2 separate regions of the Homo sapiens genome follow, and region 2 is linked to region 1. Evidence: fine-mapped expression QTL. A gene starts in region 1. The other region holds a variant in brackets. All regions are shown on one strand. Distances are from middle to middle. Region 1 holds the start of ICAM1 (intercellular adhesion molecule 1). Region 2 overlaps TYK2 (tyrosine kinase 2).

Region 1 (10,613 bases):
AATCCCAGCACTTTGGGAGGCCGAGGCGGGCGGATCACCTGAGGTCAGAGTTCAAGACCAGCCTGACCAACATGGAGAAACCCTGTCTCTACTAAAAATACAAAATTTGCCAGGCGTAGTGGCCCATGCCTGTAATCCCAGCTAGTCGGGAGGCTGAGGCCGGAGAATCACTTAAACTCAGGAGGTGAAGGTTGCGGTGAGCTGAGATCGTGCCATTGCACTCCAGCCTGGGCAACAAGAGTGAAACTCTGTCTCAAAAAAAGGAAAAAACAAAAAGAATTCTCCACACCCAAGCCCTCTCCCACAGCCTCCCAGCCTCTCTTCTCATAGCCAGCTAATATTGTCATTTCTCCCACTTCCTTTTAGGGCTATTTTATACATAAATACAGCCTCCCCGAAACTGCCCTTCCCTAATGTGAGGGTGGCATACCACTCATATTCAACATACCTTCTTTTATTTCTTTTTTTTTTTTTTTTGAGATGGAGTTTTGCTCTTGTTGCCCAAGCTGGAGTGCAGTGGCGCAATCTCAGCTCACCGCAACCTCTGCCTCCCAGTTTCAAGAGATTCTCCTGCCTCAGCCTCCCGAGTAGCTGGGATTACAGGTATGTGCCACTATGCCTGGCTAGTTTTTTTTGTATTTTTAATAGAGACGGGGTTTCTCCATGGTGGTCAGGCTGGTCTCGAACTCCTGACCTCAAGTGATCCGCCTCCCTCAGCCTCCCAAAGTGCTGGGATTACAGGCGTGAGCCACCGTGCCCAGCCCATGACATTTTGAGAACTGATGCCCAATTTCCCGCCACAGGGTTGGGCTTATTTATGCTCCCAACAGCACTGTCCTAGGACCTCCTACGTTCCAATAGCCTTGGCAGCACAGCTGTTATCAATTCTTTTTTTTTTTTTTTTTTTTGAGATGGAGTCTTGCTCTGTCGCCCAGGCTGGAGTGCAGTGGCACGATCTTGGCTCACTGCAAGCTCTGCCTCCCGGGTTCATGCCATTCTCCTGCCTCAGCCTCCTGAGTAGCTGGGACCACAGGCGCCTGCCACCATGCCCGGCTAATTTTTTGTAGTTTTAGTAGAGACGGGGTTTCACCATGTTAGCCAGGATGGTCTCGATCTCCTGACCTTGTGATCCGCCCGCCTCGGCCTCCCAAAGTGCTGGGATTACAGGCGTGAGCCACTGCGCCCGGCCATCAATTCTTTTGTTTGTTACCAATATGTGAAAAATGCCATCCCAGGGCTAGTTTTAACTCATATCTTTTTTTTTTTTTTTAAATAAAAATGGGGTTTTGCTATGTTGCCTAGGATGGATTCGAACTCCTAGGATTCGAACCCCTGGGTTAAAGCAATCCTCCCATCACAGCCTCAGGAGCAGCTGGGATTACAGGTGCACACCACGATGCCCAGCTAAATTATTTACTTTTTTTTTCCGGTAGAAACAGGGTCTTGGATGGGCACAGTGGCTTACACCTGTAATCCCAGCACTTTGGGAGGCCGAGGCGGGCGGACCACTAGGTCAGGAGATTGAGACCATCCTGGCTAACACAGTGAAACCCCGTCTCTACTAAAAATACAAAAAAATGAGCCGGGCATGGTGGCAGGCGCCTGTAGTCCCAGCTACTCGGGAGGCTGAGGCAGGAGAATGGCGTGAACCCGGGAGGCGGAGCTTGCAGTGAGCCGAGATCACACCACTGCACTCCAGCCTGGGCGACAGAGTGAGACTCCGTCTCAAAAAAAAAAAAAAAAAAAAGAAAGAAACAGGGTCTCACTCTGTTGCCCAGGCTGGTCTCAAACTCCTGGGCTCAAACCATCCTTCTGCCTCAGCCTCTGGAGTAGTTGGGATTATAGGTACAAGCCACCACACTTGGCTTAATTTGCATCTTTTATTAAAGTGTCTGAAGCAGGACCGTGTCATATGTTCAAAGAGTGAGGCATAGAGAGATGGCATTTTTTTTTTCTTGAGATGGAATCTTGCTCTGTTATCCAGACTGGAGTGCACTGGCACGATCGCGGCTCACTGCAATCTCTGCCTCTCAGGTTCAAGCGTTCTCCTGCCTCAGCCTTCCAAGTAGCTGGGATTACAGGCGCTTGACACCATGCCCGGCTGATTTTTGTATTTTCAGCAGAGACAGGGTTTCGCCATGTTGGCGAAACTTAAACTCCTGATCTCAGGTGATCCGCCAGCCTCAGCCTCTCAAAGTGCTGGGATTACAGGCATGAGCCACCGCACCCAGCCTGTAAATACTTTAATTGTACCCAAAGAAATTCACAAAGGGACTTTCCAAGGATGTCCCCACCTGCCCTGCAAGGAGCCCCTCCTTGACCCTACGAGCAAGTGGCAAAGATTCCCCCAGGCCTCTGCAGGTGCCCCTGCACGTCTCTCCCACCGGGTCTGCCTAGTCCAGCCCTCCGGGCTCAGTTACTCACAGTACACGGTGAGGAAGGTTTTAGCTGTTGACTGCCCATCAGGGCAGTTTGAATAGCACATTGGTTGGCTATCTTCTTGCACATTGCTCAGTTCATACACCTTCCGGTTGTTCCCAGGCAGGAGCAACTCCTTTTTAGGCAACGGGGTCTCTATGCCCAACAACTTGGGCTGGTCACAGGAGGTGCTGCATGTCACCAGCACGGAGCCTCCCCGGGGCAGGATGACTTTTGAGGGGGACACAGATGTCTGGGCATTGCCAGGTCCTAGAAGAAACGAGGGAAGAGGCGACAGGCATTACAAATCAGGTTCATCAAGGGAATGTGCGCCCAGCCTGTGCTGGGTGCTGGAGGCACAGCCTTAACAAGACAATACTTTGCCTTCGATGTGGAAGTTAAAGAGAAAATTCATGAGCAGGCCGGGTGTGGTGGCTCACGCCTGTAATCCCAGCACTTTGGGAGGCCAAGGCGGGCAGATCACTTGAGGTCAGGAATTTGAGATCAGCCTGGCCAACATGACAAAGCCCCGTCTCCACTAAAAATACAAAAATTAGCTGGGCATGGTGGGACGTGCCTGTAGTCCTAGCTATTTGGGAGGCTGAGGCACAAGAATCACTTGAACCTGGGAGGTGGAGGTTACAGTGAGCCAAGATTGTGCCACTGCACTCCAGCCTGAGCAACAGAACGAGACTCTGTCTCCAAAAAAAAAAAAAAAAAAATTATGAGCAAACAAGATAATTAATAACTGATGTTAATATGAGCTTTGACAAAAACAAAACAGGGTGATAGAATAGACAGTGCTTTGGTGACAGGGTAATGTTTCAGCAGAGATCTAAATGACGAGAAAGGGCTGGCTGTCCGGAGAAAAGGGAAATAAGTTCCAGGCAAGTACAGATGTCCCGGGGCAGGGTGGCTGGAGCTGAGTGAGCAAGGATGAAGAGGGGGAGATTAATTCAGGAAGATCCCGTGAGCACTGAAGGCCATGCTAAAGATGTGTTCTTTTATTTTTTTTTTTTTTGAGATGGAGTCTCGCTTTGTCACTCAGACTGGAGTGCAGTGGCGCAATCTCAGCTCACTGCAACCTTTGCCTCCCGGGTTCAAGTGATTCTCCTGCCTCAGCCTCCAGAGTATCTGGGATTACAGGCAAGCACCACCACGCCCAGCTAATTTTTGTATTTTTAATAGAGACGGGGTTTCGCCACGTCGGCCAGCCTGCTCTCAAACTCCTGGCCTCAAGTGATCCGCCCGCCTCAGCCTCCCAAAGTGCTGGGATTACAGGCGTGAACCACCACGCCCAGCCACATGTGTTCTTTATACTGAGGGCAATAGGGAGCCATGGAAGGACTTTAGCCATCACTTTTTTTTTTTTAAACGGGTCTCCCTCTGTTACCCAGGCTGGAATACAGTGGCACAATCATAGCTCACTGTAACCTTGAACTCCTGGGCTCAAGTGATCCTCCCATCTCAGCCTCCCAAGTAGCTGGGACTACAGGACACCACCATACCCGGCTAATATTTGAAAAACATTTTTTTTTTTTTGAGACGGAGTTTAGCTCTTGTTGCCCAGGCTGGAGTGCAATGGCACGATCTCAGTTCACCGCAACCTCCGCCTCCCAGGTTCAAGCGATTCTCCTGCCTCAGCCTCCCGAGTAGCTGGGATTACAGGCATGCGCCACCACGCCCGGGTAATTTTGTACTTTTAGTAGAGACGGGGTTTCTCCATGTTGGTCAGGCTGGTCTCAAACTCCTGACCTCAGGTAATCCGCCCGCCTCAGCCTCCCAAAGTGCTGGGATTATAGGTGTGAGCCACCGCGCCTGGCCCTGAAAAACATTTTTGTAGAGATGGGGTCTCACTATGTTGCTAAGGCTGGTCTCAAACTCCTGGCCTCAAGTGATCCTCCCGCCTAAGCCTCCCAAAATGCCAGGATTACAGGTGTGAGCCACTGTGTCCAACCAGATTTTAATGTGAAGTTGGTGCCCTCCTCCCTCCTAAGAAGTCAGGTGGAGACAGTCAGCCCTCCAGGAATCAGACTGGCTCCTCACTCCCTGAGACACGTAGTTTCCCCCTCTTTGGGCCTCAATTTCCCCATCTGTAAGGTGGGTGAGTATAGCCACCCCATCCCTTGCTAATACAAGTAACTCAGCACAGGATGGGTAGCAACTGGCTACCTTGCAGGTAAGAAAGAAGGGGCTTACGGGGTGGGCACTGTGGCTCACGCATGTAATCCCAGCACTTTGGGAGGCAGGGTGGGCAGATCATGAGGTCAGGAAATCGAGACCATCCTGGCTAACACAGTGATTAGCCGGGTGTGATGGCACATGCCTGTAGTCCCAGCTACTCAGGGAGGCTGAGGCAGGAGAATCGTTTGAACCTGGGAGGCAGAGGTTGCAGTGAGCCGAGATCACGCCACTGCACTCCAGCCTGGGCGACAGAGTGAGACTCCGTCTCAAAAAAAAAAAAAAAAAAAAAAGAAAAGAAAAGAAAGAAAGAAGGGGCTTATTTGGATCAGGTCCCTCAGATTCTGCTGCCTCCGAAGGTGGGAAAAAATGTCTGAGCCCAGCACTGCCTCACTCAAAGATTCCTGTCTCAGATTTGTTCTATCTTGGATGGGGGTGTGAGGACACTGGCTCCATACATTCTCCAAGGGAGATTCTGGGACCATTCCCATTTCATAGAGAGAAATGGTTACTCAGCTAGAAAGCAGTGCGATCTGGGTCTGAGTCCGGATCAGAACGCTTTGTTTTTTGAGACAGAATCTCGCTATGTCTCCCAGGCTGGAGTGCAGTGGCACAATCTTGGTTCACTGCAACCTCAGCCTCGTGGGCTTAAGGGATTTTCCTCCCTCAGCCTCCCGAGCAGCTGGGATCACAGGCGCCCACCACCATGCCAGCTAATTTTTGTATTTTTAGTAGAGACGGGATGTTGCCATGTTGGCCAGGCTGGTCTCAAACTCCTGACCTTAAGTGATTCGCCCGCCTGGGGCTCCTAAAGTGTTGGGATTACTGGCATGAACTACCGTGCTGGCCTGGATCTCAGGCTTTGTTGAGCTGTTAACCAAGCTGTCAATCTCCCACCCTCCTGGTTCCCCAAACTTACACCACCATGAAAGACCCTCTGACCCCTTCCCTCTTCCCTAGCTGGGCTGGAGCTGGGGGAGGGTGTGCTGGGGCGTCCCACTTCTCAGCTTTGGGCCACGGATAAGTCAGCTCTGGAATTCCCCCAAGTAGAAGCAGCCCTGGACTTCCCCAGGGGCAGAGAGGATGAGGAACAGAATATACATCTTGAGGGGGGTGGGGGTCCCTTAAGCCTTGTTGGGTTGGCACAGAGCCAAGTTCCCAAACCATCATGATCGAGTCCTGGGGCCAGGTGCTGCGCTGGGCCAAGATACCCTGCCAGGTGGCCGCTATAACGTTTCCCGTTTTACAGCTGAGAAACTGTAAGAGACGCAATCTAGCCAAGCAAGGCGGTGGTTCACACCTCTCATCCCAGCTACTCGGGAGGCTGAGGCAGGAGGTAAGGCTAGACCCCCGGAGTTCAAGACCGGCCTGGGCAACAAAACGAGGCCCGCCCCTCCCCTCCATCTCCAACCCCCTACCCTTTTTTAAAGCTGCAATCTATAGCCCAAGGCCACACGTGGAGGTATGCAGGGTCTGGATTCGAACCTACTGGCTGTTGCCTTTCAATCGCTGTCTCTAGCCCCTCCTTCCCATAAACAGCTACCTAAGCATGCATGACCTGACCCGGGAGCCGGTCCTCCCGGGGCTTCGGAGAACTGGCCCGACGGCAATCCCCACCCCGACTCACCTGGGAACAGAGCCCCGAGCAGGACCAGGAGTGCGGGCAGCGCGGGCCGGGGGCTGCTGGGAGCCATAGCGAGGCTGAGGTTGCAACTCTGAGTAGCAGAGGAGCTCAGCGTCGACTGGGGCGCGTGATCCTTTATAGCGCTAGCCACCTGGGGGCCAAGGGGCGGTGCTGCTTTCCCGGAAACCTCGCGCCTTCCCCTCCGGAACAAATGCTGCAGTTATTTCCGGACTGACAGGGTGCCCGGGCCGAGAGGGTCATCCTCCCTCGCTGGCCGCTTCAGCTCCGGAATTTCCAAGCTAAAGCAATCGGGCGGCGGTGGCAGGGCGATGACCCCGGGGGCTGCTCCCGGCCTCCACGCCTCCCGTTTCCCGGCCAGGCTAAGCTTGAATCACGGTCTACACCGCGCTAAGCGGTTTATTAAGTACTTTTAAATACTGCCAACTTCCCCGGAGAGTGGAGACTGTTATTGTGTCCATTTCACAAAGCGGTAAACTGAGACTCCAGGCTGCGAGGGGGTCCGAACTCAAGTCCTCCCTCTCCAGCTTACGCAGGCCTCTTTAATCGAGTGGATGAGCCCCCTGCCTGGGTGGGGGCCCAGGAATCCTCCCCGGGCTCCCTCCACTGAGGGATGCCCCTCCCCCTAGGTCACGTCCACACCTAGCTGACACGGGCATTTCTCGAGAAGCGGCCAGAGCAGAGCCAGGCACCTCCCGGCGACCGCTAACCGTGGGAGTGACGAAGCGCGGTCTCACCACGTCCGGGGAAATCGGCGTCCTCTCTCTACACCCGAGGGCACTCACCCCGGCGGCCTCCTCGCTTCCCCTTTCGGCCTTGGCCGCGGAGGCGTCTTTACAGCTCCCAGAAAAAGGAAGGAAGCTGCGTGATCCCTACGCGCCGAGCCCCTCCGCTGGCGTCCCAGGCTCCGCGGGGAAACTGAGGCAGCTAGCTTGGATCTTGACGAGGGAGGGGAGGGGGACGCTCGAAATCCCTGCCTGTCGCTGGGAAACTGAGGCAGCAGCCCCCAGGCGCAGAGGCGAGGCAGGGAGAAGGGGCGCTCGAACCCCTGCCCTACGCGCGAGGCTCCGGCAACTCGAACCCAGGCTCATGCACTAAATATGAGCGGGTGTTTGCTTGGCCACCGCCTGTGCGTGTGACCCCAAGACTCGACATCCACCACGTCGAGGCTGGGTACTCTTAAGTCTCCGAGCACCAAGCCGCGCCGCCTAAGGCTTTCCTGTTGTGGGGCGCGCGCGGCGTCGCCATGGAGATCTCCGAGGGGCCAGGGAGGTCGCGCAGCAGAAGGGGAAGCGAAGGGTCCCCGGACGCGCAGGCCCTTCCTATCGGGGAAGGGGGCTGCGAGTCACTGGCCATCCAGAGACGCATATTTCCCCCGCCTCGGTCATTCCCAAGGAATTTCCACGGGGATATTTTTTTCTTGGGGGGCTGAGGAGTTCTGAATTCCCGCCCCGGAACGGCCTGAGCAAAGTCACAGGGTGGGACGGGGGACGCCCCTGGTCCTCAGAAGGCCTGGGAAAATCCTGCGCCACGGGTTCTTCCTCGGGCGGGTTCCACTGAGCTCTTGCCCCGGCCCGAGGTGCGCGAGCTCCCCCGCGCGGCCCAAGTCCCACTTGCAGCCACAATGGTGCCGTTCTTTTCTCAACATGTGGCTCAATGTTTTTTAAGCGCCTACTGTGTGCTTGGCGTCCTTCCAGGTACTGGGGACACAGGAATGAACAGAGTCAGACAAAAATCCACCTGGGCGCGGCTCCCACCTGTAATCCCAGCATTTTGGGAGGCCGAGATGGGAGGATCACTTGAGCCCAGGAGTTCAAGACCAGCCTGGGCAACATAGGGAGACCCCCATCTCTATGCAAAATACAAAAATTAGCCGGGTGTGGTGGTGCACACCTGTAATTCCACCTACTTGGGAGGCTGATGCAGGAGAATCTCTTGAACCCGGCAGGCGGAGGTTGCAGTGAGCCAAGATAGAGGCACTGCACTCCAGCCTGGGTGAGAGTGAGACTCAAAAAAAAAAAAAAAAAAAAAAAAAAAGGAACAGCCAGGAGAACAGTGTGGCTGGAGCAGGCTTAGCAAAGGAGAGATTCGAGGAGAGGAGCGGGCAGGGAGATGACAGGGCAGATAGGTGCAAGTTCCTGTCACCTGAGGAGGACTTTGTTGTTTTGTTTGTTTGTTTCTGAACCCCAGTCTCGTTCTGTCACCCAGGCTGGAGCACAGTGGTGTGATCTCGGCTCACTGCAAACTCTGCCTCCCAGGTTCAAGCGATTCTCCCACCTCAGCCTACCGAGTAGCTGGTACTACAGGGGTGCGTCACCACGCCTAGCTAATTTTTGTATTTTTAGTAGAGATGGGGTTTCACCATGTTGGTCTCTAACTCCTGACCTCTAGTGATCCGCCCCCCTTGGCCTCCCAAAGTGCTGGGATAACAGATGTGAGCCACCGTGCCTGGCCAGGACTTTGGCTTTTATGCCCAGCGAGGTGGGAGGTATAGAGGGTTCTGAGCAGAGGAAGGACCTTGCCCTAACTCAAGTGTTCACAGGGGCCCAGTTGAGGCTTCAAGAGCTGCAGCCAGGAGATGGGAGAGGAGGTGACTGTTCTAGTCCAGATGAATGATAGTGGGGCCTGGACTGGGCAGTGTCCTTGGAGAAAGGGCTGAATTTGACATCCGTTTTGGAGGCTGGGCCAACTGGAGGTGCTGGGACAAGGGGGATGACTCCTTGATCAGGGTCCGAGCCTTTTGGAGGATGGCGGGTCACTTTCTGAGATGGGAGTGGGATGGCTATGGTAGGGGGCAGGCTGGCAGAGAGAGACGGCACCTCCCAGTCCTCCGTTCCCTTAAGCGTTTTTCAAGGAAAAGGGAAGCAGATATTTCCTAGACCTTTGTTTCTGTCTCCAGGAAGGGCAGGGCTTCCTCCCGGTTGCCAGACAGTCAGGCAGGCCAAAGAATGGCCTCAGACCAGAGGCTGCCCACCAAGGGCAGAAGCCATCCCATAGTGTCCCATGCAAACGCCTTGCAGTTCCCTCAGCCTGGAATGCTCTTCCCTTCAACCCCAACAAGGCTGGCTCCTCCTGTCTTGTGGCCTGAGCTTTCTCCTAAATGAGTGTCCCCCCTACTCCATCCTGGGCCACATCCTGGGCGTTCCTTGTCACTCGCCTTAATATTCGAATTCCTTAACTCATTACTTGCTGAATTTCTTTTTTAATTTTTTGAGACAGAGTTTCACTCTGTCACCCTGGCTAGAGTGCAGTGGCACGATCTCAGCTCACTGCAACCCCTGCCTCCCAGGTTTAAGTGATTCTCCTGCCTCAGCCTCCCGAGTAGCTGGGATTACAGACATACGCCACCAGACCCGGCTAATTTTTGTGTTTTTAGTAGAGACGGGGTTACACCATGTTGGCCAGCCTGGTCTCAAACTCCTGACCTCAAGTGATCCACCTGCCTTGGCCTCCCAAAGGGCTGGGATTATAGGCATGAGCCACTGCTCCCGGCCTATTTAGTTTTTTTTTTTTTTTTTTTTTTGAGACAAAGTCTCGCTCTGTTGTCCAGGCTGGAGTACAGAGGTGTGATCTCGGCTCACTGCAACCTCCGTTTCCTAGGTTCAAGAAATTCTTCTGCCTTAGCCTCCCAAATAGCTGGGATTACAGGCACCCACCAACACCCCTGGCTAACTTTTGTATTTTTTTTTTTTTTCAAGATGGAGTCTCACTCTGTGGCCCAGGCTGGAGTGCAGTGGTGCGATCTCGGCTCACTGCAACCTCCACCTCCCAGGTTCAAGTGATTCTCCTGCCTCAGCCTCCCAAATAGCTGGGACTACAGGTGCGTGTCACCACGCACAGCTAATTTTTTGTATTTTTAGTAGAGACAGGGTTTCACCGTGTTAGCCAGGATGGTCTCGATCTTCTTACCTCATTATCTGCCTGCCTCACCCTCCCAAAGTGCTGGGATTACAGGCGTGAGCAAACGCACCCGGCCAACTTTTGTATTTTTATTTTACTTTTCATTTTATTTATGTAAATTTTTGTGAGGTCGTCTCACTCCGTCGCCCAGGCTGGAGTGCAGTGGTGCAATCTCGGCTCACTGCAACCTCTACTTCCCAGGTTCAAGCGATTCTCTTGCCTCAGCCTCCCAGGTAGCTGAGACTACAGGTACCCACCACCACATCTAGCTAATTTTTGTATTTTTAGTAGAGATGAGGTTTTACCATGTTGGCCTGGCAGGTCTAGAACTCCTGACCTCAGGTGATCCGCCCGCCTTGGCCTCCAAAAGGCGTGAGCCACTGTGCCCGGCAGAGCTTATCTTTGATTACAGATTTCTTCTGGGGAATAGCTTAGTTTGTGGTTTTGTTTTTCAAAACTCTGCTTCAGCAAA
Region 2 (8,000 bases), 87 kb before region 1:
CTGGCTCCTCAGGAGGCTGAGGTGGGAGAATCTCTTGAGCCTGGGAGGTCCAGGCTGAAGTGAGCCAAGATTGCACCGCTGCACTCCAGCCTGGGCAACAGAGCAAGACCCTGTCTCAAAAAAAAAAAAAAAAAAAAGAGAGATCAGGTAGCCGGGCACAGTGGCTCATGCCTGTAATCCCAGCACTTTGGGAGGCTGAGGCTGGCAGATCAGCTGAGGTCAGGAATTTGAGACCAGGCTGGCTAACATGGTGAAACCCCCTCTGTACTAAAAATATAAAAATTAGCTGGGCATGGTGGCAGGGACCTGTAATCCCAGCTACTCGGGAGGTTGAGGTGTTGAGGCAAGAGAATTGCTTGAACCCAGGTGGGCAGAGGTTGCAATAAGCTGAGATCACGCCATTGCATTCCAGCCTGGGTGACGAGGGAAAATCCGTCTAAAAAATACAAACAAATAAACAAAAAAGCAGGTGTGTGCCTGCTGCTGCATTGTGTCTCCATGTAAGTGGCTGTGTGTCCAGAGTTAGTGTCCCCACAAGAGTGGCTGTGTCTGACACTTGTCCTAGCTGTGTGTGTGCCCTCTAAGTAGGTAATGAGTGTCATTGTTCCCGGGTATGGGTCCAGAGTGGCCCCAGGTGGCCTGATAGTCCCCCTGGACCACCTTCCAGGGAGCCATTTGTGCAGGCCAAGCTGCGGCCCGAGGACGGCCTGTACCTCATTCACTGGAGCACCAGCCACCCCTACCGCCTGATCCTCACAGTGGCCCAGCGTAGCCAGGTGAGCCCAGGGCTGGGGGCTGGGGCTGGGGCTGGACACGTTCCCTGCCTGGTCCCCTGCTTACTGCTCCCACCTCTGCCACCTCCTGCCAGGCACCAGACGGCATGCAGAGCTTGCGGCTCCGAAAGTTCCCCATTGAGCAGCAGGACGGGGCCTTCGTGCTGGAGGGCTGGGGCCGGTCCTTCCCCAGCGTTCGGGAACTTGGGGCTGCCTTGCAGGGCTGCTTGCTGAGGGCCGGGGATGACTGCTTCTCTCTGCGTCGCTGTTGCCTGCCCCAACCAGGAGGTACGATGATAGGGGGACCTCTGGGTGGGATGTGGCATCTCTCCCCCAGGCCCGCCCTCCATGACTTGATGCCTGCCCCCAGAAACCTCCAATCTCATCATCATGCGGGGGGCTCGGGCCAGCCCCAGGACACTCAACCTCAGCCAGCTCAGCTTCCACCGGGTTGACCAGAAGGAGATCACCCAGGTGGGTGCAGGGAAGGGGCCCGGGGCAAGGGCAGGGCCCCTGGGGATGTGGGTGCTGGGGGCCCTGGGAGATCAGCTGCTAACTTTCACCATGGCGGTATTCTGTGCCACATGATCCCGCAGCTGTCCCACTTGGGCCAGGGCACAAGGACCAACGTGTATGAGGGCCGCCTGCGAGTGGAGGGCAGCGGGGACCCTGAGGAGGGCAAGATGGATGACGAGGACCCCCTCGTGCCTGGCAGGGACCGTGGGCAGGAGCTACGAGTGGTGCTCAAAGTGCTGGACCCTAGTCACCATGACATCGCCCTGGTGAGTGGGCAGGGCCAGGCCTGGGGGTGTGTCTGTGGAGGAGGTGGCCGGAGGAGGTGGGATGGGAGGGGTGTGTCTGTGGAGGAGGTGGGATGGGAGGGGTGTGTCCGTGGAGGAGGTGGGATGGGAGGGGTCGGCTTTGCAGCCACCTGACCTGCCCGGTCCCCACAGGCCTTCTACGAGACAGCCAGCCTCATGAGCCAGGTCTCCCACACGCACCTGGCCTTCGTGCATGGCGTCTGTGTGCGCGGCCCTGAAAGTGAGTGGGTCCCGCCATACCCATCCCCCTTTGGCAGGCCACCCCTGACTTATACCCACTCCCTGATCTGTACCCCAACCCTCGACCTACACCCCAACCTATGCCTATTTCTCAACTCTCACCTGTACTCTGATCCCGGGCTACACCTTGACCTTCAACCTAGACCCCAACCCCTAACGATATTCCAGCCCATAACTTACATCCCAACACGTCGACCCTCACCTGCCCTCAGTCTCAACCCCCACCCTGATTCCCAACTACATCCCCACTTCCATCAACCTCCCAAACAACCTCTACAGTCCAGCCCCCATCTGCTCCTGGCCCCATCAGCACTATGGCCTCAGGCAGACTCCAGTGCTGATGTGTGCTGATTCTCCTAGGCCTCAGCCCCTGCACATCCAACCCTGCCTAACCCCACCTCTTCCTTTCCTCTGCAGGTAGCTCAAAACTCCTTGTATAGGCTAGGTGTGGTGGCTCACACCTATCCCAGCACTTTGGGAGGCAGAGGTGGGAGGATCGCTTAAACCCAGGAGTTCAAGACCAGCCTGGGTAACATGTCCAGACCCTATCTTTACAAAAAATTTAAAAATCAGGGCCAGGCATGGTGACCTATGCCTGTAGTCCTAGCTACTTGTGAGGCTGGAATGGAAGGATCACTTGAGCCCAGGAGTTCAAGGCTGCAGTGAGCCATGATTGTACCACTGCACTCCAGCCTGGGCGACAGGGCGAGACTCTGTCTCAAAAAATATAATAAATAAATAAAAAATAAAGCCCTTGTACAGAACAACCCTAGACCCACCCATCCCTCAACCCCCCTGTGTGTGTGTGTGTGTGCATCTCCCCCACTTTCCCCTGGACCCTGGCCGACACCCTGACCCACATCCCTCTGACTACTCTGGTACCCAAACATCTCCTACACCCCAACCTCAAGCCCCTAGCCTCTGCTTATCCATGCCCATCCCCCCCATCCCTAGTTGCTTACTTTGTAGGCTCACCTTTATCTCTTTTTTTGTGAGACTAGGGTCTCCCTCTGTTGCCCCGGCTGCAATGCAGTGGTGCCATCATGGCTCACTGAAGCCTCGACCTCCCGGGCTCAAGCGATCCTTCCGCCTCAGCCTCTTGAGCACCTGGGATGACAGGCGTGTGCTATCACACCCGGCTGATTTTTAAAAATTTTTTGTAGAGATGGGGTCTCACTATGTTGCTTAGGCTGATCTCAAACTCCTGGGCTCAAGGGATCTTCCTGCCTCAGCCTCCCAAAGTGACAGGATTGCAGGCATGAGCCACTGTACCCTGCCACCTTTATCTCTTTTTTTTTTTAATTTTTTTGAGACGGAGTCTCACTGTGTCACCCAGGCTGGAATACAGTGGCGTGATCTCGGCTCACTGCAACCTCCGCCTCCCGGGTTCAAGCAATTCTCCTGCCTCAGCCTCCCGAATAGCTGGGATTACAGGCATGTGCCACCATGCCCAGCTAATTTTTTTTTTTTTCTTCTTTTTGAGATGGAGTCTTGCTCTATCGCCCAGGCTGGAGTGCAATGACGTGATCTCGGCTCACTGCAAGCTCCGTCTCCCACCATTCTTCTGCCTCAGCCTCCCAAGTAGCTGGGACTACCGGCGCCCACCACCATGCCTGGCTAATTTTTTTGTCTTTTTAGTAGAGATGGGGTTTCACTGTAATTTTTTTGTATTTTTAGTAGAGTTGGGGTTTCACCATATTGACCAGGCTGGTCTCGAACTCCTGAACTTGTGATCCGCCCGCCTCAGCCTCCCAAAGTGCTGGGATTACAGGCGTGAGCCACCGCGCCCGGCTGTATTTTTTTTTTTAGTAGTGATGGAGTTTCATCATGTTGGGCAGGCTGCCCTTGAACTCCTGACCTCAGGTGATCCACCTGCCTCAGCCTCCCAAAGTGCTGGGATTACAGGCGTGAGCCACTACGCCCAGCCCACCTTTCTCTCTTGAACTTCAACTTCTTCCGTGCCCCATCCCACTTGGACCCCAATGCCCTCATCCACCGCTGCCTCTGCTGCATTCCGCATTTCTTCTCTCCCCAAACTCACTTTCAACCCAGACCAAACTCCACCCACACCTCTGCCCTGACACCTCCCCAGCCACATGCCAAGTCCCTCCCTGGCGTCTCCCCCAATTCCCCGCCATCCAGAGGGCAGAAGCAGGCAGGTTGCCCCAGAGCAGCTGTGTCTTTACAGATA[T/G]CATGGTGACAGAGTACGTGGAGCACGGACCCCTGGATGTGTGGCTGCGGAGGGAGCGGGGCCATGTGCCCATGGCTTGGAAGATGGTGGTGGCCCAGCAGCTGGCCAGCGCCCTCAGCTACCTGGTGTGTGGCCTGTGTGTGGGGCCTGGGTCGGTCAGGGAGGGCCAGGAGCCCAGGAGTTCGAGACCAGCCTGGGCAACAGGGCGAGACCCCATCTTTTTTGTTTGTTTTGTTTTAGGTGGAGTTTCGCCCTGTCACCCAGGCTGGAGTGCAATGGCATGATCTCGGCTCACTGCAACCTTCGCCTCCCGGGTTCAAATGATTCTCCCGCCTCAGCCTCCCAAGTAGCTGGGATTATAGGCTCCTGCCATCACGCCCAGCTAATTTTTGTATTTTTAGTAGAGATGGGGTTTCACCATGTTGGTCAGGCTGGTCTCGAACTTCTGACCTCGTGATCCATCCGCCTCAGCCTCCCAAAGTGCTGGGATTCCAGGCGTGAGCCACCACGCCCAGCTGGCCCCATCTTTTAAAAATAAACAAATAGCCAGGTGTGGTGGCTCATACCTGTAATCCCAGCAGTTTGGGAGGCCAAGGCGGGTGGATCACCTGAGGTCAGGAGTTTGAGACCAGCCTGGCCAGTATGGCAAAACCTTGCCTCTACTAAAAATACAAAAAAAATTAGCCAATGTGGTAACTTGCACCTGTAGGCCGAGGTACTCAGGAAGTTGAGGTGGGAGGATCACCTGAGCTCAGGAATTTGAGGCCGTAGTAAGCTATGATCACACCACTGCACCCCAGCCTGGGCAGCAGCATAGCTAGACCCCATCTCCACCAAAAATTTAAGAATCAGCTAGGCTGTGGTGATGTGCACCTGTAATTCTCGCTACTTGGAAGGCTTGAGCCCAGGAGTTTGAAGCTGCAGTGAGCTATGTTCGTGCCACTATACTCCAACCTGAGAGACAGAGTGAGACCCTGTCTTAAAAAAAAAAAAAAAAAAAAAAAACAAGAAAAAAATAACCCCCCAAAAAACAAAACAGAAAGAAACCCAGTGATAGTCACAGTTGTCCTTTTCACATTGGCTGTCCCTATGGGGACCAGGTTTGGGGTTGGCGTCTGTGCCTCTCCTGAGTGGCCACACCCCCTCTCCTGCCCACCTCAGGAGAACAAGAACCTGGTTCATGGTAATGTGTGTGGCCGGAACATCCTGCTGGCCCGGCTGGGGTTGGCAGAGGGCACCAGCCCCTTCATCAAGCTGAGTGATCCTGGCGTGGGCCTGGGCGCCCTCTCCAGGGAGGGTGAGTACCTGAGGGGACCTGGGCACAGTGGGGGGCTTCCCCTGCTCCTTTCACCCTTGGTGACCTCTGACCTTGGCCTCCCAGAGCGGGTGGAGAGGATCCCCTGGCTGGCCCCCGAATGCCTACCAGGTGGGGCCAACAGCCTAAGCACCGCCATGGACAAGTGGGGGTTTGGCGCCACCCTCCTGGAGATCTGCTTTGACGGAGAGGCCCCTCTGCAGAGCCGCAGTCCCTCCGAGGTATGTCTAGGAGACCCTTGGGCCCTCCCCGCAGTGGGGGCCCCTCCAAGAAATCCAGAGGACAGAATCAGAGCTCAAAGCTGCATCCCTTCTGGCCTCGTGACTTCAAGTCTCTCTGGGCTACCAGCAGGTGGGCCACTCGCTGGGGCTCAATGTAGTCCCAGCCTTTTTAGGTCCTTGTGGAAGTCACTTGTGCCTGGCACACAGAAGGCAAGTAAGAGACTTGATTTCAGTTTTAGGCAGAGTGACCAGGGCAGCGATGGGAGACGCCCAGGCTGCAGAGTGGGGAAGAAGGGCTGAGGATGCGCCTCACCCAGCAGTGGGGTCAGACAAGGCTTCCCAAAGGAGGTTCATGAGTGTGGTGGTTTTATTTTGAGACGAAGTTCCACTCTAATTGCCCAGGCTGGAATGCAATGGCGTGATCTCAGCTCACTGCAACCTCTGCCTCCTGGGTTCAAGCGATTCTCCTGTCTCAGCCTCCCGAGTAGGGGGGATTACAGGCACATGCCACCACACCCGGCTAATTTTTGTATTTTTTGTAGAGATGGGGTTTCATTATATTGGTCAGGCTGGTCTCAAACTCCTGACCTCAGGTGATCCGCCCACCTCGGCCTCCCAAAGTGCTGGGATTACAGGCATGAGCCACAGTGCCCGGCCCCAGAAGAGGTTTTATCTAAGTGTAGAATTATGCCAACAAGCCTGGCTAGGAAGGGCAGCCTAGGCAGAGTGCATGGCCTGTGCAAAGGCTGAGGCTTCAGTGTATTAAGGAGCTGTGGTCTACAGGAGGGGCAGGAGGGAAGCTTGGGGCAGGAGGCTGACTGTGACACTCCAGCTCTGCATAATCACTGGACCTGGGTCCCAGTCCTGGTTCTACGGCTGTGAGCACGTCCTCCCACTTTGTGGAGCCTCAGTTGCCTCATCTGTATAATGGAACTGATAAGAGCGGGCACCTGGCGGTCCACTCTGGGGACTTGACTCTGCCTCTTGGGGAACGGGTTGGGGGCGAGGGGAGGATGTTGACTCCTCTGGGTCCCTTTCCCAACAGAAGGAGCATTTCTACCAGAGGCAGCACCGGCTGCCCGAGCCCTCCTGCCCACAGCTGGCCACACTCACCAGCCAGTGTCTGACCTATGAGCCAACCCAGAGGCCATCATTCCGCACCATCCTGCGTGACCTCACCCGGCTGCAGCCCCACAGTGAGCTCCATCCCAGTGCTGGGACCCTGGGGAAGTGGGACGGGGCTGGGATCCCTGCTGTATGCCTATAGCGCACGAGAGGTCTCTGCACAGTGGTTCAGGGTGTGTGCCAATTTCTTGCAGTGGCATTCATAAGCATGCCCTGCCTGGCTGCCCTGAGCTCTCATTAATGTATTTATTTATTTATTTGCAATGGAATCTTGCTCTGTCACCCAGCCTGGAGCGCAGTGACGTGATCTTGGCTCACTGCAACCTCCACCTCCCAGGTTCAAGCAATCCTCCCACCTCAGCCTCCCAAGTAGCTGGGATTACAAGCGTGTGCCACCATGCCCGGCTAATTTTTGTATTTTTAGTAGAGGTGGGGTTTTGCCATGTTGGCCAGGCTGGTCTCAAACTCTAGACCTCAAATGATCTATCTGCTTCAGCCTCCCAAATTGCTGGGATTACAGGCGTGAGCCACTGCGCCTGGCCTCCTTAATGTTTTGTCTGGGGAGAGACACAACTTCTTTGGATTAGAGAATTAGACCACTGCAGTTTTTTTTTTCTTTTTAAAAAAGTTTTGTATTGTTCTCTTTAAAAAATTAATATGCTCTTTTTTCTTTTTTTTGAGACGGAGTCTCACTCTGTTGCCAGGCTGGAGTGCAGTGGTGCAATCTTGGCTCACTGCAACCTCCGTCTCCCAGGTTCAAGTAATTGTCCTGCCTCAGCCTCCTGGGTAGCTGGGACTACAGGCGCCCACCACCACGCCGGGCTAATTTTTGTATTTTTAGTAGAGACGGGAATTCACCATGTTGGCCAGGATGGTCTCAGTCTCTTGACCTCGTGATCCACCCGCCTCGGCCTCCCAAAGTGCTGGGATTACAGGCATGAGCCACTGCGCCTGACCTATTTTCTTTTTTTTTTTCTTTCTTTCTTTTTTTTTTTTTTGAGATGGAGTTTTGCTCTTGTTGCACAGGCTGGAGTGCAATGGCACGATCTCGGCCCACTGCAACCTCCGCCTCCTGGGTTCGAGCAATTCTCCTGCCTCAGCCTCCCGAGTAGCTGGGATTACAGGCGTCCACCACCACACCCAGCTAATTTTTGTATTTTTAGTAGAGACGGGGTTTCACTGTGTTGGCTAGGCTGGTCTCAAACTCCTGACCTCAGGTGATCCACCCTCCTCAGCCTCCCAAAGTGTTGGGATTACAGGCGTGAGCCACCACGCCCGGCCTAATATGCCATTTTCAACTGGTCATATCACATT

What was found. PIP is the estimated chance that this variant, and not a neighbour inherited with it, causes the effect. A credible set is the group of variants that fine-mapping cannot tell apart.
Region 2: its variant is the best candidate, but not a certain one, in a credible set for the expression of ICAM1 in whole blood (INTERVAL, PIP 0.76).

What each region holds. Positions count from the first base shown.
Region 1 is chr19:10,266,840-10,277,452 of GRCh38, reverse strand. ICAM1 (intercellular adhesion molecule 1) reads right to left here and starts at 6,333. Exons shown (of 7, transcript NM_000201.3): 1 at 6,227-6,333; 2 at 2,425-2,688. The coding sequence starts at 6,293. The region is part of intron 1 of LIMASI (lncRNA inflammatory and mucous response associated, antisense to ICAM1); the gene reads left to right. RefSeq lists enhancers at 5,532-5,771, 6,682-6,771 and a silencer at 9,126-9,420.
Region 2 is chr19:10,355,325-10,363,324 of GRCh38, reverse strand. It overlaps TYK2 (tyrosine kinase 2), which reads left to right. Exons shown (of 25, transcript NM_003331.5): 10 at 668-776; 11 at 869-1,061; 12 at 1,144-1,247; 13 at 1,370-1,555; 14 at 1,727-1,814; 15 at 4,023-4,150; 16 at 5,187-5,322; 17 at 5,407-5,561; 18 at 6,607-6,757. Among named protein-coding and RNA genes, the nearest start is that of ICAM3, 20 kb to the right of the region's middle. The variant T/G (reference allele first, on the strand shown) is at 4,026.